Homo sapiens: one gene and its partners. The protein of the gene in region 1 interacts with the protein of each later gene in a pairwise test. Each region holds a gene or a part of one and is shown in the gene's direction. Other genes may lie near its edges.

Region 1 (7,670 bases):
GGATGATCTTTTAGTGTGTCTAAGACATGGTTGCTAATGCAAAAATTAGGAAGTCAATCATCTCATAGGAGCTTGAGGTTATGAGACACTGGACAGATAAGCTTCAGTGGGGATTAGAGGAAAAGCAGGGGCATATAGTTGATGCCAGGGAGAGTAGACACCATTTGGGAGTGATGACAGCACTCATCCCCTATCCAGGAGCACCAACGGTAGGGACAGGGAGTGAGGAAGAACCCAGACCCACAGCTGTGGCACGGATGCCAAGACCTCGCCTCATAAAGTCAAACTGATTTTAGGGTTGTTGGATAAAAGCAGGTATGAACTAGAGGGTATGGGTTTTGGCCTGAGTTCTAGAGCTCCAAACTTGGAGGCAGGATGAAGGCTAAGTCCTGAGAGGAAGCAGTGGAAGGCTCCAGAGCTTCCTTAGGCCTCCTCTGCTGGGGAGAGTGCACTGCTGATGTTACCTGGTCTCCACCCTCTCACTGAGCCCCGAGCCAGGGGCTCCCGGCTCCCTCCTGGCTCACATTCTGACTCTGATGTCACTGAGCTCCCTGCCTTCCTTTCCCATTCGCTTGTCCTGGGATCAAGACAAACTGAACTGTTGACTCTTTCTCTACATGTCTCTCCCTGAACTTCCCCAGTCCCATCTCTTTGCTCTCCCTACACTGCCCCTGCCCCCGCCCCCACCCCCCACCAGAATGCCCTCCTCACCATCACCCTGCTCTTGAATTGTGCCTCAAATTTTGCCCACCCTTCCTGGCAGTATTTGTTTCCCATGGCTGCTGTCACAAATTACCATAAACCTGGTGGCTTCAAACAACACGAATGTATTATCTGACAGCTCTGTAGGCCATAAGTCTGACGGAGGTGTTCTCTTGAACTAAAATCAGGGTGTCTACAGGGCTGCATTCCTTCTAGAAGCTCTAGGGAAGAATGCATTGGCTGGCCTTGACCAGCTTCTGCAGCACCCACAGTCCTTGCCTGGTGGCCCCCTGCCTGCATCTTTGAAGCCAGCAGCATAGCATCTCTCTGACCCTACTTCCATGTCCATCTCCTTCTCTAACCACAGCCAGAAAAGGTTCCTCTGTTAAGGAGCCATCTAATTAGATTGGGCCCACCTGAATAATCCAAGCCACTCTCCCCAACCAAGGGCCTTAATTTATATTTGCAAAGTGCCTTTTACTGTGTAAGACAGTATTCACAAGTTCCAGGGATTAGGATGTGGACATTTGGGGGTGCGACATTGTTCTGCCCACCACTCTGGCCCAGCCCAAGTAGCCCTCACTGCCCTCAAAGCCCCCTCTCCACCATTCTGGGCTCCCCTGGCCCTTGGTCTAGGTTTCCCAAGTGCCTCTGCAGCCTTCCCCCAGCACAGCTCTTACCACCCTGAATTGTCATTGCTTGTTGATTTGTGGTTTTCTTGCAATAAACTTCAAGTTCTGTGGGAACAGGGACAGGGTTTGTCTTGTTTACTGAGATATCCCCAGCACCTAGCACAGTGCTCAAAAAATTTTTGAAGGGAAAAAGCATTTCTGATACGGGAGATAGAAATTATTTAGGCAGATAGCAAGGACAAAAAAGTCCTTGGCAGAACTTCCCTTCTAATAAGAAGCAGCCCTAGAAATCATTTCTTTTCTAACACAGAGCAGCCTCAAAGATTGGGCTGCAAACATATATAAGGAAGCTGGAAGCTTGCACGGAGGAATGCTGGCAGCTGCACTCATAGAAAAGGGCTACCGGGGGGCCAGGCATGTTCACCATGGGACTCCACCTTCCCTTTTTTGTTAGCACATGTACAGTAAGAAAGAACTGGGCAACATGGAGAAGCTCAGGCAGAGAAACCACCTGCATAATAAAGATTGGGCTGGGAGCTGCCAGAGATTTGTGCCCTATGCAGATGGCACACCTGGTGCTAACTTTTTTTGAGATGCCCTGTATAGATGAGATACTGCCTCCCCACTAGCTCATCTATAAAACCCCCTGCATTTCACCTTAAATTGGCAACTCATTTTTCCAGGACCCCTCTCTGTAGCAGAGAGCTATTGTCTTTCTTTCACCTATTAAATTTCCACTCTTAACCTCACTCTTTGTGTGTCTACCTCCTTGATCTTCATGGCCAGGAGACAACAAACCTCAAGTGTCACCACAGACAACAAGGCTGCTTCACTTCTACAACACATCACTTTCTATGTTACATTCTGACCATGTGATTGGTCTGCTATTAGGTTGTGCATTACTTGAAAGCAGAGTTGCATGTGATTTGTCTGTTGTATCCCTGGGGTACCTAGCATCTGTGAGCCCTGGAGTTTGGCTCACAGATAGTGCTTGGCACATGTTTATGGAATTAAATTTAATGAATAGGTTCAGACTCACTTCACTGGCATGGCTCATAAACACAGGGCACATGGAGGATGTATGGGAATGAGGTGCCCTGGGTCAGGTAGGACTATTTGGGAAAAGCTTCTGCAAGGCAAATGCTTGGGCAAAGATTTGAATAAGATGAAAGATAACGACTGGCAGTGCTGGGGGTGATAATGTCCTATGGAGGACTGCAATGAGCAAAGTCAGATATAGGGACAGCCGGTGGGGGGAGTAACCAGTGATGAGATGGGGTGGGGAAGTGCAGAAATGGTAACCACTTGGCTTGGTTGCCAAGTGGAGGGGTCTGAATTGGATGCAACAGGGTGCTTGCTACCAGGGATTGAGCAATGAGCGATGTGCTGAAAACAGAATTGGAGGAAGACAGGATGGACCTAGGAGCACACAGGAAGGGAGTGCATTTCAGGGAGCAGAATGCTAGCCGAGGAAAGATACAGGCAGGGTGATGATAGCTACCTCCTGGGGACACCTGGATAGACAAGATGTGGAAATATGAGAGAGGAGTCAAAGATAGTTTGATGCCACAATCTAGGACCTGCAGAAATGCAGAATGACAGTGGAAGGCCTCCCTTCTGTTTGATGAGGAAGATGGTGAGCTCAGCATTGGGTATCTTTAGTGTTGTGTGTCAGAGGGTCATCCATTGGAGGTGACAGACTCAGCCCCATGCTTTTGTCCCCATGAAAGTCCCACCTTCATATGGAACGTATATGGGGGGAAGAAGTGTCTTTTTCCAGTACTTGAACTATCCCTTCTGCCCCCACGAGGTAGGCATTCTGTCTCTGCCTGAGCTTGCTCACCAAAGCAGCCATTCTGACCTCCACAATGAGCTAACATTGCCATTTATAGAGCCTCCCTCTTTGTGTCAGATGCTGTTCTAGGTGCTTTGCATATGTAAACTCATTATATCCCTACAACCACCTTGAAAATTTGGTAATATTAATCCCATTTTATGGGCATGGAAACCGAGACTTCTGAAAGGATTCCAAAGACTTCCAAAGATCCAAAGGCGGTGTCCTAAAGGAAACCACCCAAATTCACACAACTAGGAAGGGAGGAACCAGGATTCCTGCCCTGGTCACTCTAGCTCCAAAGCCCCTGACCTTTGCATCACACTGCAGGCCTCCTGCCCCTGCCCCCTGCCAACTAGATTTAATTTAATTCTATAGAATTCAGTTTAGCAAACACTTCCTGAGCACCTACCAAACACAGGTCACTCTGCCAGGTGGCAAGGATATAAAGAGGAATAAGACATAAGCATAGGAGAGAGGAACACAAACTCAGTGGCCTCCAGATAAGTGCCCACCTCAGTTCACAGGGCCTGCGAGGGGCTTGATTCCACCTGGACCCAGCCCCTATGCTAATCCAGCCACCAACCTCAAGTTTGGGCCATATTGATACCCCTCCCACCCACCCCTAAGGAATCCCAACATATCAAAGCTGAAGGGGATCTTAGAATCCAACCGAATCATTTTACAGATAAGGGAAGTAAGGGAAGCTGAGGCCCAGAGAAGGGAGGTATCTTTTCCAGGCTAACACAGCTGCTTAGGGGGAGCGCCAGGGCCAAAGCCCCGGTGTCCTCACTCCGGGTCTGGTGCCCTGAATTCATATGACTCCCCTTTCCTTCACAGCTGGCAAGAAGTTCACATCTGCCACATAGCAGCCAGGGACCCTCACCCCTGCATCCTGGCCATGCACACTTTGCCCCATTTTGCCAGGCCCAGCACCAGCATGGGGTAGGGGGATCAGGCTGAGGACGCTGTTGTGCACACTCTTCACAGGCCCAGCCCACACCACCCATCGCCAACCCTAGATTTCTCCTTCTCAGAGGTGTGTGTAGGGGTAGAGACGTTGCCGCGCAGAAAGTCTTCTGCAGCAAAGACGTGGATCCCTAAATAACATTTCCAGATTTTGAATGAGGACAAAGCCCTTCAATCTCGTATCGTTTTTGTTGACGTTACTAGCTTACAGTGTATAAAGCGCTTTCTTTCTAAAACAGCAAGATGAAACAAGCTGAGTTTTATAATACAAGGAAGGGAGAAGCACCGCAGTGGGAGTTCTCAGGCCACACAAAGGCAAGACCCTTCCCCAGGAGTTTGGAAGGCTGACGTTCCCTTTTCTGGTTTGGTCGGGTTTGAGAAATGCCCGCCTCTCCCTTGCGCAAGAGTCTCCCCGCCCAGGTGAAGGCGGGTCTTGTTGCCATGGCGACAGCGCGGTCGGGTTAAGGGGCTGCTCTGGCAACCAATAGAAGCTAGGAGAGGGCGGGGACAACTGGGTCTTTTGCGGCTGCAGCGGGCTTGTAGGTTCGTGGACGCGGCATTGGGGGAGGGGACGGGGGTCGCGGGGCTATTGGGGGTCCCAGTCCGGCTTAAGACCTCTGGGCGTGGTGGGCACCGGCCTTCGCCGTCGGAGCAGGGGTCCCAGACTCGCACCCAAAAGTTCCCGTCGGGCCCGAGCGGGGAGGAGCTGCGGGGCGGGCAGAGGCGGAGATGGCGGAGGGCGGTGGGACGTGATGCGCGGGTCAGAGCCGGGCCTTGAGAAGGAACTGGAGGCCCCTGGCAGCGGTGTCCCCTCGAGGACCCCTCTGCCGGGCTCACCAGGTGGCTGGCGGAGAGCCGGAGAGTTGGGCGGGAGGGAAGCAGGGTTTGGCGACCAGGTTTAGCAGGCCTTGGAATCCTGGAGCCCAGCCCCCAACCCCATTCCCACTTGGCCGGATGGTTAAGGGCCTAGCGTGCTGGCTGCGGTGTGGCCACCTTCCCCTTCTCCGACTCCGTATCTCTTTTTCCAGGTGTCCGGCTTTGCTGGCCCAGCAAGCCTGATAAGCATGAAGCTCTTATCTTTGGTGGCTGTGGTCGGGTGTTTGCTGGTGCCCCCAGCTGAAGCCAACAAGGTGAGGGAGGTGAGCCTGCAGCACCTGGTCACGACCACAGTGCACGGCCACCCTGTCTACAGGGCTGACTCAGAGGTAGCCAGCTGCTCCTTAAGCCTGCCTCTCACTCACCTATGGGCCATACTTCTTTTAGTGGTCTTCCTTCAGGTTCAAGGCTGCTGGCCTCCCTAAGGATAGTGCGGGTGAGGAGTGAGGAAGGGTGGGGCACAGAGCACTGGCTCACTCTGATCAGACAGATCAGTGGTGGACTTCCAGCAAGGAAGTTTGGAGAAGTTATCTAAGTTCTCCATACCTTCCTTTGCTTTGGACCAAAGTATGTTTTGTTTCAGATATTTTTGGATTTGGGAGTATTTGCACATAAAAAATGAGCTATCTTGGGGAGGGGACCTAAGTCTAAACCTGAAGTTCGTTTATGTTTCATATATGCTGTATATACATAGCCCGAAGGTAATTTTATACAATATTTTCAATAATTGTGTGCATGAAACAAAGTTTATCTACACTGAACCATCAGAAAGCAAAGGCGTCACTATCTCAGGCACCCATGTGGATAGTCTGGTTGGTTGGCATCACCACCATTCCTGACAATGAATTTATATGCTACCGATAAATATTTTCTTACGTTACACATAAGTTCTTAACGGTAAAAAAATATGATGTACTATTAACACAGTGAAAATAAATGATGTGTTCAGGGTAACTAAGCACAGTAGCATCACCAGAATACCTGTATCAGCTGTTAGACACAGCAACATAAGGCTTTCTGTCTCCTGCTGTGATGCTGTGTTTTGATTAAAGGTTACTGTGCACAGTATTTTTTTAGGTGAGAAGTAGTATCTGAAGCAGTAGAGGGACCAGAAAGTGGGTCCTCTAGAGATGAGGAGGCATTCTGCCAGATGGCTTTTAAAAATGTTTTTGCCAGTCACCTGATTCATTAACAAGCTTTTGTCTTAGAAGTCTCTTTGATTTTATAGACTGACACGATTTCTTGTTCTGTTATGAATGCGCTCTGCTATAGTCTTTCAAGAAGCCCGTCACTCATTGTTACCATGTCTGTAGGTGCTTTTCTGCAATGTTAACATCATCTTTGTGGTCATGTCTGTGCTTAACAAGTTTTAGATTGGGAGCATTTCGAATTTTTGTTTTAGGGGTGCTAGTACTACCACCTGTAGTAGCAGTTGTATCTATTACTCTGCTTAGGGAGAATCAAATTACATGACAATGTAAAAATGCCCTGTAAGTGTAAAGTCCTATACAGTTTGAAGTTTCCATTATTAAGGGTGACCCACCTAAGTTCTGGGACTCCTGAGATAACTTCCATTCTTTATTGCTACATTCCTGTGGAGCTGTTTGGGTAGATCTATGGAACTAAAGATCATCCAGACTTTGAAGTAAGGTTAAGGCTGAGAGTTTGTTTCCATTCTCTCCTCAGAAATCCTAATTAGTAAAGACATTTATGGTGATATCTCTTACTCATTCCAGAAGGGAAGAACTTTCAAAGGGGTTGCTTGAGTATTCCCACAGAAATGATCCACTTTTTCTTATTCACCCTCGCCCTTTATGTTTCCCCAATCCTACCTAAGAAGTTGGAGAAGGAATGTGGGGAAGAGGGTGGCTGCCAAGTCCACTGGACAGAGGTGCACACACAAGTGTGGGGTCTGGGGTAGAGGACACACACACACACACACACACACACCCATTTCCCCTCATCCCTCTCCCCGCATTCCTCTAAGTACCTGCTTTGGGACTGGCAGGCCTAGACAACTTTCTGTGAGTCTCATTTGCCATCTGGACATTTTTCTATCTTTAGGACCCGGTGCTGCAGCTTGCTTCCTACAGTGGCAGTCCTTGCTGGATTTGAACTTGGGGATGGAGAAAGCTCAAGAGCATAGATATGGTTCACCTAACAGGATGGGGAACAGAAAGTTGACAACCTTGCTAGAGCCTGAACCCCCTGAACCCCAGGCAGGGTCTCTGCATACTTGACATGTGCTTTCTTTTCCAGAGTTCTGAAGATATCCGGTGCAAATGCATCTGTCCACCTTATAGAAACATCAGTGGGCACATTTACAACCAGAATGTATCCCAGAAGGACTGGTAAGGCATTACACGCAGGCCCCTGGCTGCTATACCCAGTTGAAGTTATGGGTGTTTACTAGAGTTCTTGGACCCTGGAGGATAAGCATGCTCTCCCATTCCTATGGAGAGCCTTTCAAAGGAGTAATTATTCATGTCACAGAACCAATTTCATAGTTGTCAACTGTCTGTGGAAACAGGATCCAGGTGTCTGAATTCCAGCTGAGTGGTCCCTGGCTAGAGGAGTGGATTTTGTTGTTTTGCTTTGAATATTGGTCTTTAGTGATGCATACAGAATAGTAGTAGAGAAGTTGGCAAAGGTAGGTA
Region 2 (7,135 bases), on another chromosome or scaffold:
CACTTCATAAACACTTCAAGCAGCTAGCCCCAATATTTCTCCCCCCAAAAATAATGCTAGTTCATTTTTCTGTCATTTATTTGCATCTATGAGACTTAATAAAATATTTCTTTTATTCTTTTAGTATCAATATTTTATCAAGTCTTTCTATTCTTAACAAATACAAATTGCATTTTCACCAGAACATTCCTATAGCTCAATCGCTTGAAAAATAGAAATAGTAAAAAAAATTACATGGTCCTAATTTATCAAGAAGGAAATAAACATCATATTGCTTTCGGTCCATTTTCAAGCAGTGTATAAAATATTGGAAATGGTTTGTGTTTTATACATATTTACTTTAGATTAAAATAAAATTTTCATAATGCTCTCTAAAATACAATCCAATTAAATTTCTAATGTCTTTGTTTTCACATTTCTAGATGAAACCTCTGAAATACTCACACTGTAGTAATAACCATAAAGCTACCTTGCTAAGAAAATACTACTCAACTTAGAAATAATAAGATCTTTATAGTTATGTGAGAATGCATGAGTCCAGAATCTTTAGTGGGTGATTACACTGGTTGAGTTTGAATTGCCTCCCCTGTTGTGGAAGACAGCTCCATAGTGAAGATCATTCTGAATGGCACTCTACTGGTGAGGGGGTAGAATGAGGCAGACATCAATCTAATTTGAGAAAGTAGAGTCCAGAGGGTTTGAGAGATCTACCCAAAGTCATAGAGCCGATAGCTGAAGTCCCCAGATCTTCCTTTTTCAATAACCTTTATTTCCTTGATGGATGCTTCATTCACAGGTAATTCTTAGCCTTCTGCTAAAGCTGGAGCCAATTTCTCAGCAATAGCCAAAACATTTTACTTAGACATGGCCCAGTGTATAGAAACTCACAGTTACATAAAACTGGTTATATATCAGAGACTATGCTAAGAACTTTTATACATATTATCTGTTTTCCTCTTCACAAGAACTCTGTAAGATGGATTCGATTAATACTCCCATTTTACAGGTGAGAAACGGAAAAACACAGTGGTCAGGCAACTTGTTCAAGGTCACATATCTAAGAAAGTGGTCAAACTGGAAACTAAAATTGTCTACCTAACTAACTTGAAAACCCATATATTAAACCACTTCACCACACTACCTCTCCACACCAACAGGAAAAAGCAAAACATGATGAAAGTCCACATTTGTTATTTAAAAACAGGCACATTTCTATGTCTGATTTAAAAAGATGGTTGCATGCACACATTGGCAACATGAAGTATTTCTGAAATACGAGTTTAAATATGGGGAACACAAATTGTAAGTACTTGGTACTTTAGTATCTAGGGATAATGATGGTAGCTTTTTATAAATCCATATGTCCTTTCTACAAGTGAAATATCCAACAATGTTTAAGATACTTGTGAAATTATTTTTGCACAAGTATTAGCTACTGTTTGTAACACCCTATTAAGAAATTGTTGCTGACAACAGCTAGGACTGAAGAGCCAAACCAGTTCTTCAGTGATGTTGGTGATGTTCTTGTGGCTGACAGAATACTTATTTCCACAGGTAGCTGTTATAGATTGTGTGTTTCCCATTCAGTTACTCCAAGCTTGTGAAGGAGAGTGGGCGGAGAAGACAACCTGTAATTCGGGATGGTTTGGAAGCTGGTTGCCTAGGAAACTGAAATGAGCAGCGTAATGCCCACTAAAACCAATGTCTACAGGGGATGGGATTTTCCTTTTTGATCCAAGTTGCTTTCCAAATATATATTCTATGCTGCTTGTGGAGCCCAGTTAGGCCGTTGGCCCTTGGTGGGCAGTTCATGCCAAAGTAGACCAAAGGTTTGTCAGGGAGGATGAGAGATTTTTCATAAATGTTGTGATGACAAAATATTTGAGAGAGGGAATGACGGTGCAGTTAAAATGAACTTGTAAGAGAATAAGGTGATCAGCAGATGCATATTTTACATGATATAATATGCAATTCTTGATCATAACATCTGCATCTAAATTTATGGCAGCAAAACTTTTTAAGCATAATTTTATTTGCTGTAATCTACTGTTCTCTGTTCTTATGCTACTCACACTGGAAGCTTTGCTTTATGGTAATCATCTTCAAGAGTAACTTTTGGGATTCATAAATCTTTGATGAAAATCATAATTAATTTCCTAGTACTTTATAAATATGTACATTTTTATTAGTAAATGTAACATACATATCCACACATATATTTTAGGTATCTATATATGTGTGCATGTATATTTAAGTTGAACCATATAAAATTGCTGATATTAGACCACATAGGACTTATATAGTTTATCTTATAGACAAATAGAAGAGATCATAGGATACATTTTTGACAGGGGGTAGCAGTATTTTTTGTTGTTTTGCTTGGGTCTCTCATTGTCTCTTTTCCCATCTTCACTTTTCCCTGTCCTACATCAACCCCATCCTACTCTCACTTTATTCTTGCCCCATAGGCAATCCACATTAACTACCTGGCATGTATCCTTCACACTCATTATAAATTATATGTCAATTATGTATGTATGTATGTCAATTATAAATAGATCTGTACATCCGTATTTGTACTAGAGGCAAAGTTCGCATGGAGGAATCTCAAACTTCCAGATTGTTTATTTCCTGTTGATATCTATAGCCAAATATTCTCCTTCCTGATTTGAAAATATTGCTTATCTCTTTTTTTTGTACTCACCCTTAATGAATTTCAGGCTGATTTAAAGTAGTTTCCTCATTTTCTGACATTCATTCACTTGAATTCTATTTCTCTTGTCTGTGCTAGAAACTATTCACAAATGATTCAAGCTGTGACATATGGCAGTGTGTCACACAGGTGGATTAGTAATTCTTTTCTGGTTTTCTACTTTCGCCTCCACAGAATAACTGATTACTTTGTAAGGTTAAGAGTAAGAATATACGAGAAAAAATACATTGGTTTTTATTCTGCTAACAGTAGACCCAGGATTTCAATGCCTTCACTTGCAAGGAAAAGGCTCCCCCAGAGCCTCTTAGAGGCTCCAAACTGTGTGAGCAAAGTTAAGGATCAGTAAGAGTGGGGTCATATGAGAAGACCTTAGAATTTATGTTATAGATGAGAGTGTTTGAAATCTTAAGATAATAAGAGGTACAGCTACACCACAGATGTGATAGGAGACCTAATAGTCTCATTCTGAACCAAAGGTGACTTCTCCTGTCACTGCCTATGACAATTGGCATTGAACCCCATCCTCCTTTTAGAGCACAATATTCATTTTATTAGGCCATTGTGAGAGATCTCAGCTCAGCATAATGGGCAACTTCCCGTGACTCTGGGCCACTGGGTTATTCTGGGACTTAACTACTCTGAGTTTTCTCACTAGAAAGTTAGTGTTCACACAAGGAAAAGGCAACAAGAACCTGGTGGTCTGGGGTTTACTCCTGTTCTCCAGTCTGCACAACCCCCTCTTTCTCTACCGTTGTGTACATCTTTATAGGTCTTGAAACCTTTTGCCCACACACAAATGCCTACTGTTTGTCCAGGCTCTTGCCATAAGGCTATAGTTCTTTCTCTTATTTGGGAAGGAAAGTGCTTTGTATGAAGTAAAATGCTGATTCCTAGGAGTTGAGGAGTGTGAGGTCTCCCAGGAGCAACTCAGAGGCTTCCTTCCTCGGAGCTGGAACTGGCATGCCTGATAGGGTTTCCTTGGGTGAATCCTTGATCCTTAGTAGAGGGTACCTTGGCCAGGAAGAACAAAGCTCACTCTGGTTCTTGTATTTTGGAGGGCTGTTATTTACGTAGAAGCAGAGTCTGTCCTTCTCTTGCCAATCAAAAGGATTTCAAAGCTGCTGTACCAAGAACTGTTTTCAGATTACTGGTTTCAGAAACTATTGACCCTTGTCCTCCCTTTCAATAGTGAAATCCCAAAATGGTCCTAGGAGAGACAAGTAAATTCTGACAGCTGCTTAGAGGTCATCTTAGAACTAAATTCCAAAGAAATAATTTTAGGCTGATAAAGAGTCCAGAAAAAGGAGGAGGGAGAGAAAAAGAAAGAATTAGTTTAGTGTAGCGAATGGTAGCTATTTGCAGCTCACCCACGTGTGCTCCGAAGGTCAAAACCCTACATCAGCAATTTGTAGCAAGCTCTTGAGCTCCTCTACCTCTTAGAAAGCACAATTGAATCAGATATCATATGAAAGACATACACACTTCATGTAATGCTACCTGCAAGTCTCCCTAGAAAAGCAGTTTTTGTAGGTGAAAACAATGAAGCCAGGTAATATTGCAAGGAGGCTGTAATTTTAGCAGACCTACCAACAACACTGATGTAGGAAGCTCATTATTTTAATTTCTGGAGCCTTTTAATTTTTTCTTTAGAAAGTGTATAAATAATTGCAGTGCTGCTTTGCTTCCAAAACTGGGCAGTGAGTTCAACAACAACGACAACAACAGCCGCAGCTCATCCTGGCCGTCATGGAGTTTCTTGAAAGAACGTATCTTGTGAATGATAAAGCTGCCAAGATGTATGCTTTCACACTAGAAAGGTAATAGATGTCTGTGTCTGCTTCACAATTTTCTCTGTTGAATATCATCCAATTCCTATACCTTGTTGCTTCTGAATTGTAGGCCTTTACTCTGCAACTTGGGGGCACTCTGGAACATTTTATAAGTTGTTGACTGACATGTATTTTATATTCTGAAAAATGCAATACTTTATATAGTTGATTTGATTCCTTAAATATCCTAAGTGCATAAAGAACACATTTTACTGATGTGTTTTTCATCTGTCATGTTTATTCCAGAAAATAGACCTATATAATCTGTTTACTTTTCCTTTTCTCAATTATTCTCAATTTTAAGATAGATAGTAAATTTTATTATATTATATTTAGAAAAAGTTAAGACTTCAGCTACATGGCAAAATTGTGGTTGTATTGATCTTAAAATGAGCTGTTGTTTTCATGCTTATAAAGTATCATTATTAATATACATACCTATAACAAATATAGCTGATTTTAATGTTCTACAAAGTATTCCATTTCTTTTTAATGTCTCCCACAGTGTCACATGCAATACATTCATTCATTTTTCACTTGGTTAACAATTATTGATTGAACACACCTGTAGTAAGTGCAGAACTTATAATGAGAAAGAAAAAAATGTCTAGTTTCAGATCTTTGTCCTCTTGAAACTTAGTCTAATGTGAAATACATATTAGAACTAGGCAATTACAAAACAGTGTATTTGTGTCATATTGAGGGTGTTCAATAAGAATAACTGGACTTTGGAATCAGAGGAAGCTTTCTCAGAAGTAATAGGCTAAGAGCTAAAAATAAAAAGGAATTAAAGTAGGGTTAGGGATAACCTACATAGAAAATAGTTTTAAGGAAAGTTTCCCAGACTTCGATAATTGCACAGTAAATATACTTTCACATACATAAGAATGTGAGCTTGGTTTGTTTGAGGAGTTGAATCTGAATGGGGTTCAAAAAAGGAACACATTCAGTGAATATAAATGAGCTAATGAAAATCTGAAAAGAATTGATGTTAGAAGAAGAATTTAAGAGAATACTTGCCCATTAATAATACGTGTAATGTTCTTGTTTGTTTCACAAAGCCAAACTAATATTCTAAGGAGTAGTGATACTATGTTTGGGAGCATCAAATATTTTAGTAACAGCAAAGAGATTTTATAAAAAGGATATTTATAACTTGGCTTAAAACAAAGAATCTAGCAATCTCACATTAGAAGAATTATTTTTCTTAGAAAATAATATTAGATATGATGTATTGAGGTTATTAACATAAAAAACAAAGCCTTGTGGTAAGTCAGGCAGAAGTTTTGGACAAAAAATTGTTAACCCTATGGATACTATCAATAGAGCATCTCCACATTACTGAAATAACAATATTTCCCTTCTTATTAACATAGACTATTAGCATTTTGTTGCACAAATAAGCCAACCACTTATAGTTACAAAGTCTCATTCACCCCATAAATAGGTATGGTTTTCAGGACACAGTGTTTATAAGAATTGTCAAACTCATTTGTATTTTCTTGTCAAGGGAAATAAATTAAATCTGGAAGAGATTATTTATCTCGATCCCTCATTTTACCATGTAGGAAACTGAATGCCAGATAGAACAAATGCCTTTCTTGAGGTCAGAATAAATGTGTTTCTTGAGGGCAGATGGCTAATTACAACAGAACTGGGCTGTGGACCCAGGCCCCCTTCTTGTTAATTTAGTGTTCCCCTTCTCCGTCTACATCTCCTGTACCCATACATGCACCATGTGGGCTCCTGAATCCTTAATCTATCTCCTCCTTAGGTCACATGTCCCTGAATTCCCTCACTTACTCACTTCTTCCCCCACCTCTACCAATCTATCTCATTTATTTTGTTCTGTCTCTATTAGTTGTGGATAACTTTATCCCCTGATATTCCTCCTCTTTTCTCCTTCTACCTCTTTTTCTTTCTACTTTCTATTATCAGCTTTCTATTTAAATGGTTACTGGCTGTTAAGAAACTTACTCTGAAGAAAACTTTATTATCTAATTCCACAAATGGAGTGTTCCATTTATCTATGGCTGTGCAACAAACTACCCCAAGATGTAGTGGCTTAAACAACAACTATTTTATTACGATTCTCTGGGTCAGGATTTGGGCAGCATTCCATGTGAATTAGTTGGAATAGAAGGCTGCATTCTGCTGGTATCTGGGCTAGGCTAGAAGGTTTAAGATGGCTTCACTCACATGACTGAGATCTTTGTGTTGGCTTTTGCCTGGGGCGGGGGTCTTAATTCTTCTTCCCATGGCTTCTCTCCCTGTATGATGTCTCACTTTATCTGGTTAGCCTGGAATTCCTTATGTGACAGTCCAGAGTAGCAAGAGAGCAATAGTGGAAGCTGACCATTCTCAGATAGCTTAAGCCCAGAACTGGCACAGTATCATTTTTATCACAATTTATGGGTTAAAGCAAGTCCCAAGTCTCAGATTCCATGGGTGAGGCAATAGATTCTATCTCTTGATTGCATGTGCATATTGGATGACAGGAATTGCTGGAGGTAATCTTTACAGGCATTTTACCACAGGAAGTAGTAATATTGGACCCAGTAGGTGCCATGAACCATATTTTTTTACCCTCTCC
Region 3 (7,557 bases), on another chromosome or scaffold:
AACTCCAGACCTCAGGCGATCCGCCTGCCTCAGCCTACCAAAGTGCTGGGATTACAGGCATGAGCCACCATGCCCAGCCCATTTTTCCCACTATACTAGTTTGAAAGTTAAATTCTCTTTTCCTATTAGTATTATTTTAGTGATCTCCCTAGAAATTACCACATGCATTCTTAACTTACCAAAGTGTCATGCTCATAAATACCTTTACGGAAGGATAGAGTTTCCTGAGATGGAGGCAGGAAGAGAGAACATTCCAAGCTAGATGAACAGGGAAGCAAGCAGATGAACAGGGGAAGATTTAATTGCTATCTGAGTCAGAGTGAGGCTAGAGCAAGATGAGTGAGCTGGGGGTGGGTGGTTTAAAGCCATCCAGGAAGGATGTCTTGGTCATGAAAAAGATCTTTGAGAAGAACAAGAATAACTCCTCCTCAACCCAGGAAGGACACTGATTTTCCTGAGGCTTCCCAGGAGGCAGTGGCAGAGCTTGGTCTAAAGCTGGATGTCTTTAGCAGTCTATGTCCCTGCCTCTATACCTACCCCAGCCATGCTCACTGTGTCCCCTTTCTAGCAATTCCTCAATCTCTGCTTACCTGTCTAAATACTGCCCATTCTTCAAAACCCAGTTCCATTAAATCAACCCAACAAATATTTTCTTTTTATTTTTGTATTTTGTATTTTTATTTTTAATTTGTATTTATTTATTTTTTTGAGGTGGAGTCTCGCTCTCTCACCCAGGCTGGAGTGCAGTGGCGCAATGTTGGCTCACTGCAACCTCCGCCTCCTGGGTTCAAGCAATTCTCCTGCTTTAGCCTCCCAAGTAGCTGGGATTACAGGCGCCCGCCACCAGGCCTGGCTAATTTTTGTATTTTTAGTAGAGATGTGGTTTTGTCACGTTGGCCAGACTGGTCTCGAACTCGTGACCTCAGGTGATCTGCTCACATCAGCCTTCCAAAGTGCTGGGATTACAGGCGTGAGCCACCGCACCCGGCCCAAGAACTCTTTTTATTTCTTTTATCTTCCCTCACATAAATCAAGGTAGGCGAGGTCTTTCAAACTGATAGTGAAATAAAGAGATTTCAGAAAGGGTCGGTGACAGCCAAGGTCAGACAATACAAAAAAAGTTCAGGACGAGTTCACACTGTGGCTGACATGTCTAATCATAATGACCATCATGTACTGAGTACCTCCCACATGGCTGGCACACTGCTACATTACCTCTAATACAACAACCCTATGATGTGGATATTCTTTTTTTTTTTTTTTTTTTTGAGACTGGGTCTTGCTCTGTCACTCAGGCTGTTGTGGAGTGGTATGATCTCAGTTGACTGCAACCTCTGCCTCCAGGGTTCAAGCAATCCTCCCACCTCAGCCTCCTGAGTAGCTGGGAATACAAGTGTGTGCCACCACACCCAGCTAGTTTTCTGTATTTTTTGGTACAGATGCTGTTGCCATGTTGCCTAGGCTGGTCTTGAACTCCTGGGCTCAAGTGATCCTCCTGCCTTGGCCTCCCAAAGTGCTGGGATTACAGGTGTAAGCCACCACACCCAGTGTGGATATTCCTAAATCAATTTTACAGGCTGGGCACGGTGGCTCATGCCTGTAATCCCAGCACTTTGGGAGGCCAAGGAAGGAGGATCGCTTGAGCCTAGGAGTTCAAGACCAGCCTGGGCAAGACAGTGAGACCTTTTTTTTTTGAGACACGGTCTTGCTCTGTCTTCAGGCTGGAGTGCAGTGGCGCGATCTCGGCTCACTGCAACCTCTGCCTCCCAGGTTCAGGTGATTCTCCTGCCTCAGCCTCCCAAGTAGCTGGGACTACAGGTGCGCGCCATCACGCCTAGCTAATTTTTGTATTTTTAGTAGAGACAGGGTTTCACCATGTTGGCTAGGATTGTCTCGATCTCTTGACCTTGTGATCCGCCCACCTTGGCCTCCCAAAGTGCTGGGATTACAGATGTGAGCCACCACGCCCCCGCGAGACCTTGTTTTAAATAAATAAATAAAACCATTTTATAGACGAGGAAACAGAGGCTCAGGGCTATATGGAGAATTGCCCATATTTCCCAAATCACCAGAGAATTAAAGAATTAATCTAAATTAGAGCACCTCAAGGTTTGGGCATTGGGGGTAGTCTAGAGGCAGGGAGAGGGGACCCAGCCTCAGGGAATGGTACTTAGGGCCAAGAGAACAGACAAGGTGTCAAGATAGGGAACAATAGCCAGGAGCAGACACCCCTGGTTGGAGCTAGACAAAGAGGATGACATGAAGCCCCAAGGCAGAAAACCTGAATCTAGTTGCCAAATTTGGAGAGAGGTAGTTCTTTTTGTAAAGTTTTGCTAGTCCATTTGTCCTGGGACCTTAAAGAACAGGATAGGGGAGAACTCAAAATCAAGAAAAGTAGTTTTTAGAACAAGACACTCTGAGTGCGCACCTTCTCCAGACTTCGGAGCCCCTCAGAGTGCGTCTGAGGTATCTCTGGGTCCTCCACCATTGCTCCACATGAGGCCTGTCAAAGAGAGGGCCTAGACTGGGTGAATGAACAAAAGTGAACACATGAAAAAGAGCTCTGGCAAATTAATCAACAAATGCTAAGTGGCATTAACAGCATATAGTGGATTATGTGAATTATCTCAGGTACCAGACTTGAGTCCTGGTTCTGGCATGTATTAGCTGTGTAAGTAGGTAACTTGGTTTCCCTGTTTTCCATTGTAAAATGAGGATATTAAATAGTATCTACTGGCGGAGGCTCATGCCTGTAATCCCAGCACTTTGGGAGGCCAAGGCAGGTGGATCACCTGAGGTCAGGAATTCGAGACCAGCCTGACCAATATGGCGAAACCCCATCTCTACTAAAAGTACAAAAATTAGCCGGGCATGGTGGTGCCGCCTGTATTCCCAGCTACCCGGGAGGCTGAGATAGGAGAATTGCTTGAACCCGGGAGGTGGAGGTTGCAGTGAGCCGAGATCGTGGCACTGCACTCTAGCCTGGGTGACAGAGTGAGACTCTGTCTCCAAAAAAAAAGAGAGAAAGAAAGAAAAAAAAAAGGCCAGGCGCGGTGGCTTACACCTGTAATCCCAGCTCTTTGGGAAGCCAAGGCGGGGGCAGATCACGAGGTCAGGAGTTTGACACCAGCCTGGCCAAAATGGCAAAACCTCGCCTCTACTAAAAACTACAAAAATTAGCTGGGCGCAGTAGCGGGCGCCTGTTAATTCCAGCTACTCGGGAGGCTGAGGCAGGAGAATCGCTTGAACCCTGGAAGCGGAGGTTGCAGTGAGCCGAGATCGTATCTATTTTCACAGGTTTTTTTTTTTTTTTTTAATGGAGTTTCGCTCTTGTCGCCCATGCTTGAGTGCAGTGGTACGATCTCAGCTCACTGCAACCTCTGCCTCCCGGGTTCAAGCGATTCTCCTGCCTCAGCCTCCCAAGTAGCTGGGATTACGGGCGCCCGCCACCGTGCCCGGCTAATTTTTGTATTTTTAGTAGAGACGGGGTTTCGCCATGTTGGCCAGGCTGGTGTCAAACTCCTGACCTCAGGTGATCCGCCCGCCTCGGCCTCCTAAAGTGCTGGGATTACAGGCGTGAGCTACCGCGCCTGGCCCTCACAGGGTTTTTATGAGGATTAAATAAATGAGATAAGAAGTAAGAGTGCCTGGGATATACTGGGTGTTCAGAATGTGTTATTGCTGTGAGGATTTAAGTGGAAAAGTGCGATGTTAGGTATGGCTAACTTAGAGGTCCTCCACCCGCTGCAGATGCTCTGACTACCCACCAGTGTGCTTGCAGGAGGAATTCTTGGTCCCTTCACCCTCCTTCCCTGTTGGGCTGGGATGGTCTTTGCAAAGGGAGCCAGGGGTCCCCCTCAAGTTCTTTCATGGGTCAGTCATGGTCAGGGTAGGGAGGGAACTCTGGCAGCTGGTTTTGGGGGATCAATCCTCTCATTGTGGGGAGACCCAAGGCTGGTGGCTGGAAATCCTTTCTGCGCTACGTAGGACAGGGCGCCCTCTCCTGAACAAAGGCGGGAACAGCTCTAGGCCAGAGTTTCTGGGATGTGCCTCACCGGGTCTCACTGCCTGCAAAGGTGCTCTTCCCATTGCTGAAATGTCCCCAACCGCCCTGACGAGCAAAGTTTGGGGGAGGGGCGCCAGGGCTGGGAGGAAACTGGCTTAATGTTTCAGAAGGGCGAGGCTGGATAGTTCGGTTAGAATGGAGGTGCGAGGCAGGAGAGACGGGCGGATGAGAAAGAAATCCGGCCCCTGTTGAATTAATTTTGTGTTCTTTCAACAGGTAGATGGAACGCAGCTGAGAGGTAAGGCGACAAGGTGGCTTATCCAACATGCTCAAACTCAGGTATCCAGAGCTCTTCCGGCTGCCCTCACGCAGCCGAAATTAGTGGGGGCAGACCCGGGCTGTAAAGCATGGTTTGAGGACACGCCAGATTGAGGAGGAGAGCCAGGGGTCGGGGTCTCCAGAAGCGGGGAGGAGCCAGCGGAGGATCTGGGCGCAGTTTCCTCTCTAAGTTCCGCCCCGAGAGCGCCGGCCCCGCCCCCGCCGTTCGCGCTCTGACCAGCCCGCAGAGCCAGCCCCCGACCCCGGGCCACCTGGGCCCCCGGGTTCCGCCGGCACTCTCGCCACCACCGCGTGGGTGAGTATGGGCATGGATGTGCTGGGCTGCCGGGCAGCCCCACTCGGGAGCTTGGCCGCGCGGTCTGGCCTCTGCAGGGCCGGGCCCCACGCTGTGGGAGTCCTGGTACCTGCCGTCCTATCGCACACACTCTGTTTCCCAGGAACTGCTGCTCTCTGGACTTGCCGAGCTGGCCCCCTTCTTCTCCCTCCCCAGCGTGGGGCCGGGTGTGCAGGGGTTGAGCTCTCCCTTTATTCCGCGGGGCCTCCTGGTCAGGAGTCCTAGGTGGGGAGGATGGGGCCCCGGGGTTGGAACCCCATAGAGTAGTTTTGAATGGCAGCTGTGCCATTTATTAGCCTTGGCCTTGAGTAAGTGTTTTGAACCTCCCTGAGCCTCAGTTTCCTCATCTGTAAAATGGAAATATACAGGCTGTAGCACCTACCTCATAGAATTATGGTGAGATTAAAAGAGACAATGTATATCAAGTACAGAGCAGGGGGCCTAGTATTCCGTAGGCACTCAGTAAATGTGGGTTCAGACTCGAGGCTGAGGAGATCTCTAGGGACTTTGGAGCTGAGGTAGCTCCAAAGAAAGCAATTTTCAGCTAAGTAGTACCTGTGAGGAATGTAGAACTATCTGCAGGCTGAACAATTGCCCTTCAGCTCCACCCTGAGGTGTGGAGTAGAATGACCAAGTTGGAAGGACCTTAGAGGTAATCTAAACCATGTGATTCCCATGTTGCAGAACTGTGGAAACAGATCTAGAGTGCTTAAGTGGCTTGCCAAAGGTCACACAGCTAAATGGGAGGCCAGGCATACCTCCAAGAATTGGAATGGATTATCCCTTGAACCTCCTCATCAACTCCTGATTTGGGCAGTGCCTCTTCATTCCCTGAAGATCTAGTCTTCAATTTGGGAATCCTAGTGGTTCCTCAGGGATCTAGAGCTGCAGCCTTCAGGGAGGGATACTGGGAGGGAAGACTAGTGCTACTGCAACTGCAGAGTCTAGGTTTGGGCTGGGTGAGGAAAATGTTCCCCATCTAGGGCCCTAAGGGACTTAGAGTCCATTTAGGGATGATCCAGGGAATGTGTTTTTTTTCTGGGAGGGTCACCAGAGCCACTTCCAGCTCCCTGGGATCCCTGATGCTCCTAAAAGGGAGAGAGGAACTTGAGCAATTGGAGCAGGCTGCCTGATCAGGTCTGGCAGCTGGGGGAAAATGGGTGAGAATGTGGAGGCGTAGCCACCTGGCTTGTTCTGGAATGCCAGGATGGCAACCTAACTGAGATCAGGGTTCTTTTTGAGGGTGGGACTAAAGGGAGAGTCTTGTGGGTGGGGTCAGGAAGAGTTGGGACTTGATTTGACAAGGTCTTTGAGCCCAGAAGGGTATATTCTTTATGTGTCTGGAGCCAGCCCTAGCTTGGCAACAACAAGCCAACGTTCCAGGGATGGCTTTCCCTTCAGCTCAGCACAGGGCTTTGAGGAAGAGCCAGCCCTTCTCTCTCTCTGAGTGTCTTGGTTTCTCTATCTTTACAATGGGAATAGGGCTAACTGCCTCATCTATGTAGATTTTGGTTTTTCCTTTTCTTCCTCCTGTGAACAGGTGCCTCTTCTGCCTCTCTCACTCCAGTCCTAACCTGACCTTTCTCAAGTTCAGACACAGAGAGGAAGGGGTCAAGGAAGGCCAGAGTTGCAGTGTGTAACTCTTCGTGGGTCCCACATGTATCTCTTTGTTATGTGATCCTGAGCAGATTCCTGCTCCAACTTTCCCTTCTGTATACTGTGCGGAGCTGGGCTAGGATTGTTGGTATACACTTATTTGTTATAGTTCCTGACCTTAGCTACCCTTATCTAAGGGGGAAATCACAGCCCCCAGGAACCCTCATCTGTTCACAGGAGGGTGATGTGGACAGCCCCCTGGGCACTGGGAAGCCTCCAGAAGCTGACCAAGCAGCTCTCTCCAGCAAACAGCAATCCCAGGCTAGCACCAGGCCTGATTCTGCAAAGCCTTTCACCCTGGGGGCACGTGAGGGAGCAGGCTGGGACAAGCAGGGGGCTTGGGGTTCTGTCAGCTTCCATGGAATCCCTGCCACTGTGGACTGCGGTGCAGGCACACAGAGCCTGGGAAGGGACTGAAGGTGCAGGAGGGCCCTGGGCCAGTGGGGAAGCAAATGAGAGCTGATGAGAGGCCTTGAAGCCTGGAGGCTGGGCCGAGGCTCAAAGGCCTGGGGGAGGAGATGGGCCATGCCATCCACTGGTAGGTTTTAGGGTTGGTTCTTGAAATAAAGAGAGACACTTATTTAAAGCAGCTTCTCTAGTCCTAGGCCTGTCAAGCTAGGCAGAGAGGAGTGAGGAGAAGCTCTCCCAGTCCATTCAAGCTTTATCCTAGCACAGATTTGGTTCATTGTCTTCCCTCTGAAATTGAGGTGGAATGTTGTCTTGGGATTCTGAGTCAGTCTTCCTCATCCAGGGCAAGAGCTATCCAAGTTTAGGTGCCTTCCTCCTCAGACTCCCCACCCCACAGCACACAGCTAATTTTAGGACTGAGCACAAGGGCTGACTTTATCACTGAGTGCCAGCCTGGCTGCCTGGGGCCCTGACAGCATGCCACTCCATCCCCAGGTCTGACAAGATGTACCAGGTCCCACTACCACTGGATCGGGATGGGACCCTGGTACGGCTCCGCTTCACCATGGTGGCCCTGGTCACGGTCTGCTGTCCACTTGTCGCCTTCCTCTTCTGCATCCTCTGGTCCCTGCTCTTCCACTTCAAGGAGACAACGGCCACACACTGTGGGGTAGGGCATGGGGACACTGATACCTCATATTCAGGCCGATCTGGATCTTCTTTAGATCTTGAATATCTTTTAACAAGATTAGCCAGCTCTCCACTGGGGCCCATCAAACATACGGGGCTGCTGGGGGGATGCCTGCAAATTGAA
Region 4 (7,023 bases), on another chromosome or scaffold:
AACATCTTGGAGGGTTAAATCATGCAACTGTGTTTTCCTGTGGAGGGGAGTTGATTCCCCCACCTGCAAGTGGAAGCTTCCAGGGTAGGGGCCCTCTGTTTGTCCTCTACCTTGCATTCCCAGGTCAGCCACATCTGGTGGGTGCTGGTCCTGACATTGCCTTTGGAGAAAGTGGCCATGGTGGCCTGAGTGGAACAGCCCTCCCCTTAAACCCAGGTATGAGCTCTAGATTGGGAAGAGAATCCAGGAAGGGAGAGAGAAGGCTCGTGACTCTTGCCTATCTTGTGTTAGGTAGAAGAACTCTTGGAGTCAAACGACGAGGTCATTATTCTGAATTTCTTTTCTTTTTTTTTTTGAGACAAAGTTTCACTCTGTCCCCCAGGACAGAGTGCCATGGCATGATCTCTGCTCACTGCAACTTCCACCTCCCGGGTTCAAGCAATTCTCCTGCCTCAGCCTCCTGAGTAGCTGGGATTACAGGCACCCACTGCCACACCTGGCTGATTTTTGTATTTTTAGTAGAGACAGGGTTTCACCATGTTGGCCAGGCTGGTCTTGAACTCCTGACCTCAAGTGATCTGCCCGCCTCTGCCTCTCAAAGTGCTGGGATTACAGGCATGAGCCATGCGCCCAGCCCTAAATTTCTTATATAAAGAAATCTCTGATTCCCCTCCCCTAGGGGTATCATTGCCACTTGTTTTCCTTATAAGAAAAATGAGGCCTAGCAAAGCTATATGTCTAGATTTAACGTTATGCCATATTAAGAACCCAGCTCTAATTTCTGCTTAGAATCCATTGTAGTATTATAATATGACGGGATGCTTTGATGACTTTCTTACTGCTCAGCAGACATCCATATTATTCATCCTGTGAAGGAGGTGCTGCCATCCCTGTTTTACAGATGAGAGAACTGAGCCTCAAAGAGATTAGGTCCTATAACCAAGTACATACCTTGGGTAAATAGAAGCACCAGAGGTGAAACTCAGAGTTCCTGCCCTCCCCATACCACTGTTCTCTCAAAGGATTTGCAGAAGTACACAAAGCTACCAGGAAAAGAAAAGCACATTCTTTTTTCCCCCCTAAATCCATCAACTAGCACAGGTGCTATTAGCGAATTGTCTCCACCAAGTGGATGTTTTCGTTTTTTGCTGATTTGCAATTGAAAATAAAGTACACATAATTTGGAAAACACTTAACTTTTAAGGAACACCTTGAAGCTTTCCTCCAACAGAGTTCATTAATTTAAAGTCACTGTATTTTACTATTTGAAAATTTCACAGCTGAATGAGCTTGTGATTTCTGTTTATTGTTAACCCATACTCCTTTCAAAGTACCACTTGAACTTCAGCTGAGTATGATTTTCAGCCAGCTTGTTTTTAGTGTATGCCATCTATTTTTGCTAGTGGGAATGCTTGCCATTTCTCCCAGGAGAACTAACTATAAATTATACTTCAGAGAACTTCTAAATAAATATGTTCATGCCTCAGCACCTTAATGTGTTAATTAGCTATTAACAGTGTCAGTAAATTAGACCTGTCAAAAATAATGGCCTCCTTGACTAGGTTTTTACTAACACTTCTCCTGGTGGTGTTACTTGTAAGTTTTGCCCTCAGGAACTGTTAGAAAGCAAGGCTGTAGAGGTCTGCTTTGCAAAAGATGAACTCTGAAAGGGTTTGTTGGAATCATCTTGGCTCCAATCTGTGGGTGTTGTAAGGACTGGTAGCCTTAGAACACTGAGAATTTACAAATCTCAGGCTTACGAGCAACTCCATTACATTTATGGCTGGCAGGGGAGTTTATCCCCTGCTCTTTGCTCTCCATTTCAGAAAATCTGGCCAATGATCGTCCTTGTAAATTGCCTTCTTTGTGCATGCGCAAAATTAACAAGTTATGGCTGCTGTTCATGCTGGAGAAAGGTACCTCATTTTCCAAATCCGGGTTCTGGTTGGCACAAAAGAAGGACCTGACCAGATCAGAATCTGCCCTGCCCACTTCTCCTCTCATGCTTGTGTCAAGAGACCAAAGTGGGTCCTGCTGCCAATACCAGGGCTGGGACGGGGCATCTCAGAGTGAGAAACTCGGGAAAAATGTTATCAGTGGTGATTACATAAAGTTCAAAGACTACTGTTATTTTCCCTGTTGTATTAAGAATCGAATGGGTTGGCCTGGGATTCTACCCACTGTTTATCATCTGGGAAATGCATTCCGCGTTCTAAATGACCAGATTGTAGAATTTAACCTTTGGTAAATTCCCGACAACTTGCACTTTCTGTTAACAAAGCATGGAAGTAACTAAAGGCAATGCAAATTAGGGTACATGCTAATGTTTTCTGGGAGTATATATAAATGGATGAGTCCCCCATTTTTTTGTTTATTTAATGACTGCAGTCAGAGTCAGCTATAAAACCTCAAAACCATAGATTAAAATGAATTTCACAAAAAGAGCGAAACCACACTGTCCGAGTAGCCCTGGTGGCAAGTGATGAACCAGTTTGGGTTATCCTCACAGGCTCTCTTCAAACTTGCAAGGGACTGACAGGCTTCCCCTCTCTGTCTTGCCTCTACCTGCTGTCTGGGCTCTGGCTGGGGAGCTCGAGGACTGAAGTTTAAAATACAGCTGGTTCAGCATTTGGCAGCGGAGACCCAGATAGCCCTGCAGCACAATGATTGCTATGAAAGAAGCCTTCATTATCCTGTTTTGCTAAAAATAAGTTTGTTTTGCTGTTTTTGATAGCCACGGTGTTAGTGAAATTGTTTTCTGTATGGAAATATTTCACACTACACAATGGAAGGTCACTGTCCTTGCAGTCTGCATTTGTGGGAGTCTAAAGTGTTTACAATTAAGTAGAGCAGCTCCTGTTTGCTCTTCAAAAATGGGTCCAAGGAATAGGATTAAAACTTCAATTTCATTCTTTTCCAAAGAAACACAGACTGGGGCCAGGTGCAGTGGCTCATGCCTTTAAGCCCAGCATTTTGGGAGGCCAAGGCAAGAGGATCGCTTGAGGCCAGGAATTCGAGACTAATCTGGGCATTACAGCGAGACACTGTCTCTATAAAAATTTAAAAATTAGCCATAGGTGGGGGCAAGCGCCTATGGTTTCAGCTACTCAGAAGGCTAAGGCAGGAGGATCTCTTGAACCCAGGAATTTGAGGCTGCAGTGAGCTATGATTATGCCACTTCCCTCCAGCCTGGGTGGCAAAAGTGAGATCCTGTGTTAAAAAAAGAAAAGAAAAAAAGAAACTGAACTGGAGGCCACTAGTATGTACTCCCTAAATTCATGATTATCATGGTCTCGGAATTATTATTTATCATGGCTCTGCTTGAACACCAATAATAAATGACTTATCATATATTGACACATAAGAGGTTTTTTCCAGTTAAAAAGTTTAATTCCAAACGTAAACCTGATGTAGGTATATATGTTTATTTGCTTAGCAGATACTTACTTACACCCGGTATGTGCTACTATCACTATTTTAGATCGAAATATGGCATTGTTTCAGGCTGAAATGAAAATGGCTTATGTGGTAAAAGCTTATTAGTTTAAACCCTGTTAATGTAAAAACCTGGACAAAAGCCACACTGAAGTTTACCGTGTACCCTGGCTGTGCAAATAAAAATACATGACTAAGAACATGAATAGCACAGGAAGGATGAACAAACGAACTGACAGAACATACTCGTTAGGGTACTTTAAAGGCATTCATTTATAAAAGAACAGTTGACTTAATCACTATAAATTACTCTTCTACAAAATAGTGCTTTTTAAAACCCAGTTTTATTATATACACCCTGAAAACAATAGTACTTCACTAAAGTATTCCCTTAGACCCCCCATGGTTCATGATGATATTCCAGTTAGTCTGCTATTAATAAGCGTCCACTAATATTGGAAGGTTTGACCCTTTGGATCTCTTTCTGCCACCCAGTTATAAATCTTATCATTTGATAATGTCAAAACCATTAAAACACCCTTTTAAAGTCCAATGAGCGGAGGAGCTACAGAGTTGTGATGGTGGCAGATGATGTTTTTTCACAGTGAAAGGCACCTTTCACTGTGGAATTTCACTATATGGAATTCGTAGTCTGATTTGGGATGGAATCCATGTCTGCCACTTTCTAACTCACCTCTGGTAAGTCACATAACCTTTGTGTGCCTCAGTTTCCTCACTGGTGAATATGGAAATAACACTCAGATCTATCCTGAGGATTCCCCATAAACCGCACTTCACAGTGTGTGACCTAGAATAGGCACTCCCTGTAGATTAACTTGCTTTCCTTTCTTGCTTGTCTTGCCACATGTTTTCACCATCACAGTTATCTTTTTGGAAAACAAACATCCAGAATGACAACGTAAAATGAGGATTTCTCCCTGGACAGCCACATGCTTTATGTAACGTAAATGACCTACTCTAATTGCAGGTTATATACAGGCATGTAGAGGACTTATGATCGCTGCTGTCAGCCTGGGCTTCTTTGGTTCCATATTTGCGCTCTTTGGAATGAAGTGTACCAAAGTCGGAGGCTCCGATAAAGCCAAAGCTAAAATTGCTTGTTTGGCTGGGATTGTATTCATACTGTCAGGTAAATAGTAACTTTCTTCCAAACAAGGTACTTGATGATGTTAATGAAATCACACTAACCATAGTGCTTTCCCTCTAATATTTGTTAGGGCTGTGCTCAATGACTGGATGTTCCCTATATGCAAACAAAATCACAACGGAATTCTTTGATCCTCTCTTTGTTGAGCAAAAGTAAGTACTCTTCTCAGTCTGTTTCCAGCTCACAGGAAGTGTATATAAATTAATATTCTCAACCAAGAGACATGAATTTCCTATATGACTTTTGAAAGTAAGACATACTGATAAATGGTAACTGATGACATCATTCAAGATTAAATGTGTCATATGCCACATACGCAAAATATGCATTTAATTAGTTTGCTAGTGTTGCAGTGTCTTGTCTCGAAACAGTTCAAGGCATCAAATTTAGAACTATAAACTTCATCGTTTGCTGTACATCATGAAACTGAGGTCAAGTAGAGGAAACGTGAAAGGTGTCAGACGGAGAGGAAAGAATGATGCGGTGTGCGAATAGAAAATTAAAACCTTGCCTTGATTGTTGCCCACTCAAAATGATATTTGCCAGATGCTAGTTTCTGGGTCTTTTAAATTTGCTGTATTAACTACTGTCTTAACAAGCTCCTCCTAATAAACCTTTATAAAGAAACTGTATACGATGCAAGGTTTTTGAAAAATGCTGTAGGAGCACGGCACCTTTACCCAAATGTGGCTGGTCAGTCTTGCAGATGAATGCTTTGGAATTAACAGATCAGTTTGCTTGTTGGTGTTGTTTTTAAACTATGGGCTGTTGCTTTTTATAGTTTCCCTAGGCTTATTTCTTTGGATTGGGAAAACCCCAGGGATACCAAATCAGAATTAATATATTAAATATTTTGTCTTACCTAAGAATGTATCTACATCCCTCTTTAGGAAGCCTCACGTACGTGTGTGTGTATTGCTATCAATGAGGCTGGTAATTTTATTTTAGACTTCAGGTCAAATTTTATAGAATTTTTAAGAAGTATATTACTGAAATAGCTGGTCAGCTGGGCTTTACTTTTTTTCTGGTGGTTTTAGGAATCTTCAGGAAATTGATTTTCTAGTTCTGGCTTAAGTGTACCTTACGCATAAACAGTAAATGCTTATATCATGAAATAAAATGAAAATAATAGCTAGCGCATGTTGAGTCCCCACCAGGAGCCAAGCAGAGCACTGCAAATATTATTTTATTGTGTTATTTTATTTTATTCTTACAAACAACCTTATAAAGTAGGTCCTCTTGGTACTCTTTTTTTAAATTGAGGAAAGAGGCCAAGTGATGTGTTCAAGGGAACTTGGACCAAACTAGTAGGCTGATTGAACTGGGATTCAAACCAGGCAGTTGAACTTCAGAACACTGGCTCTTAAAAAGCATGATTTCTAATATTCCACTATTTTGTAATTTTTGTGACAATATGCTACATGTACTGTTCATCAAGAGGTTTCTTTCGTCCTTTTTTTTTTTTTTTTTAAGAGTTAGGGCCTCTTTCTGTCACTCAGGCTGGAGTGTGGTGGTGTGATCTTAGTTGACTGCAGCCTTGCGCTTCTGCACTCAAGTGATCCTCCCACCTCAGCCCCCCGAGTAGCTGGGACATATATGTGCCACCACAACCAGATAATTTTTTTTTTTTTTTTGAGATGGAGTTTTCGCTCTTGTTGCCCAAGCTGGAGTGCAGTGGTGCGATCTCGACTCACTGCAACCTCCATCTCCCAGGGTCAAGTGATTCTCTTGCCTCAGCCTCCTTAGTAGCTGGGATTACAGGCACGCACCACCATGCCCAGCTAATTTTTTTGTATTTTTAGTAGGGACAGGGCTTCACCATTTTGGCCAGGCTGGTCTCGAACTCCTGACCTCAGGTGATCCACCCGCCTCAGCCTCCCGAAGTGCTGGGATTACAGGTGTGAGCCACTGCGCCCGGCCCCGGATAATTTTTACATTTTTTAACGGAGACAGGTCTTGCTATGTTGCCCAGAGTTGTCTCCAGCTCCTGATCTTCAATGATCCTCCTCCCTCAGCCTCCCAAAGCACTGGGATTACAGGCATAAGCCACCATGCCCAGCCTTTTCTATACATTTAAAAATAGTTTTTATTCAGAAATGTTATTAAATGGGAAAGAAAAACAAATTTTATTAAATGGGTTTTAGACCTCAATATAACTTTTTTATCCCCTGCCTATAATACAAAAACATGTCCTAATTTATTAATTTTCTCCTACTTATCTTTCAAATGAGATTTGCACAGATGTACATGGCAGGAAACATTGAAATAAAAACCAAGGCTGTATTTCTGAAGCTTAGAAATATTTTAATGATATTTAAAAGAAATATTGTATTTAAATGATACATTTTTATTTTAGGGTTTGATATCATAAATATGCAGCAAACCTGTACTTCTCATGGTTTATTTTATTAAACACATTT

Evidence for each region.
Region 2: the proteins of TMEM9 (region 1) and SLC30A8 interact in binary tests that used the Homo sapiens proteins (3 or more experiments, as listed by UniProt).
Region 3: the proteins of TMEM9 (region 1) and PGAP2 interact in binary tests that used the Homo sapiens proteins (3 or more experiments, as listed by UniProt).
Region 4: the proteins of TMEM9 (region 1) and CLDN10 interact in binary tests that used the Homo sapiens proteins (3 or more experiments, as listed by UniProt).

What each region holds. Positions count from the first base shown.
Region 1 is NC_000001.11:201,151,455-201,159,124, reverse strand, and holds the start of TMEM9 (proton-transporting V-type ATPase complex assembly regulator TMEM9 isoform a precursor), read left to right. Parts: upstream 1-4,650; 5' UTR 4,651-5,201; coding exon 5,202-5,267; coding exon of another isoform or gene 5,268-5,342; intron 5,343-7,272; coding exon 7,273-7,364; intron 7,365-7,670. UniProt on the Homo sapiens protein: Transmembrane protein that binds to and facilitates the assembly of lysosomal proton-transporting V-type ATPase (v-ATPase), resulting in enhanced lysosomal acidification and trafficking.
Region 2 is NC_000008.11:117,130,869-117,138,003, forward strand, and holds the start of SLC30A8 (proton-coupled zinc antiporter SLC30A8), read left to right. Parts: upstream 1-4,126; 5' UTR 4,127-4,459; coding exon 4,460-4,530; intron 4,531-7,135. UniProt on the Homo sapiens protein: Proton-coupled zinc ion antiporter mediating the entry of zinc into the lumen of pancreatic beta cell secretory granules, thereby regulating insulin secretion.
Region 3 is NC_000011.10:3,804,012-3,811,568, forward strand, and holds the start of PGAP2 (acyltransferase PGAP2), read left to right. Parts: upstream 1-4,548; 5' UTR 4,549-4,640; intron 4,641-7,153; exon of another isoform or gene 7,154-7,238; coding exon of another isoform or gene 7,239-7,248; coding exon 7,249-7,413; exon of another isoform or gene 7,414-7,545; intron 7,546-7,557.
Region 4 is NC_000013.11:95,555,709-95,562,731, forward strand, and holds part of CLDN10 (claudin-10), read left to right. Parts: exon of another isoform or gene 1-216; intron 217-1,790; exon of another isoform or gene 1,791-1,870; coding exon of another isoform or gene 1,871-1,916; intron 1,917-4,423; coding exon 4,424-4,585; intron 4,586-4,673; coding exon 4,674-4,755; intron 4,756-7,023. UniProt on the Homo sapiens protein: Forms paracellular channels: polymerizes in tight junction strands with cation- and anion-selective channels through the strands, conveying epithelial permeability in a process known as paracellular tight junction permeability.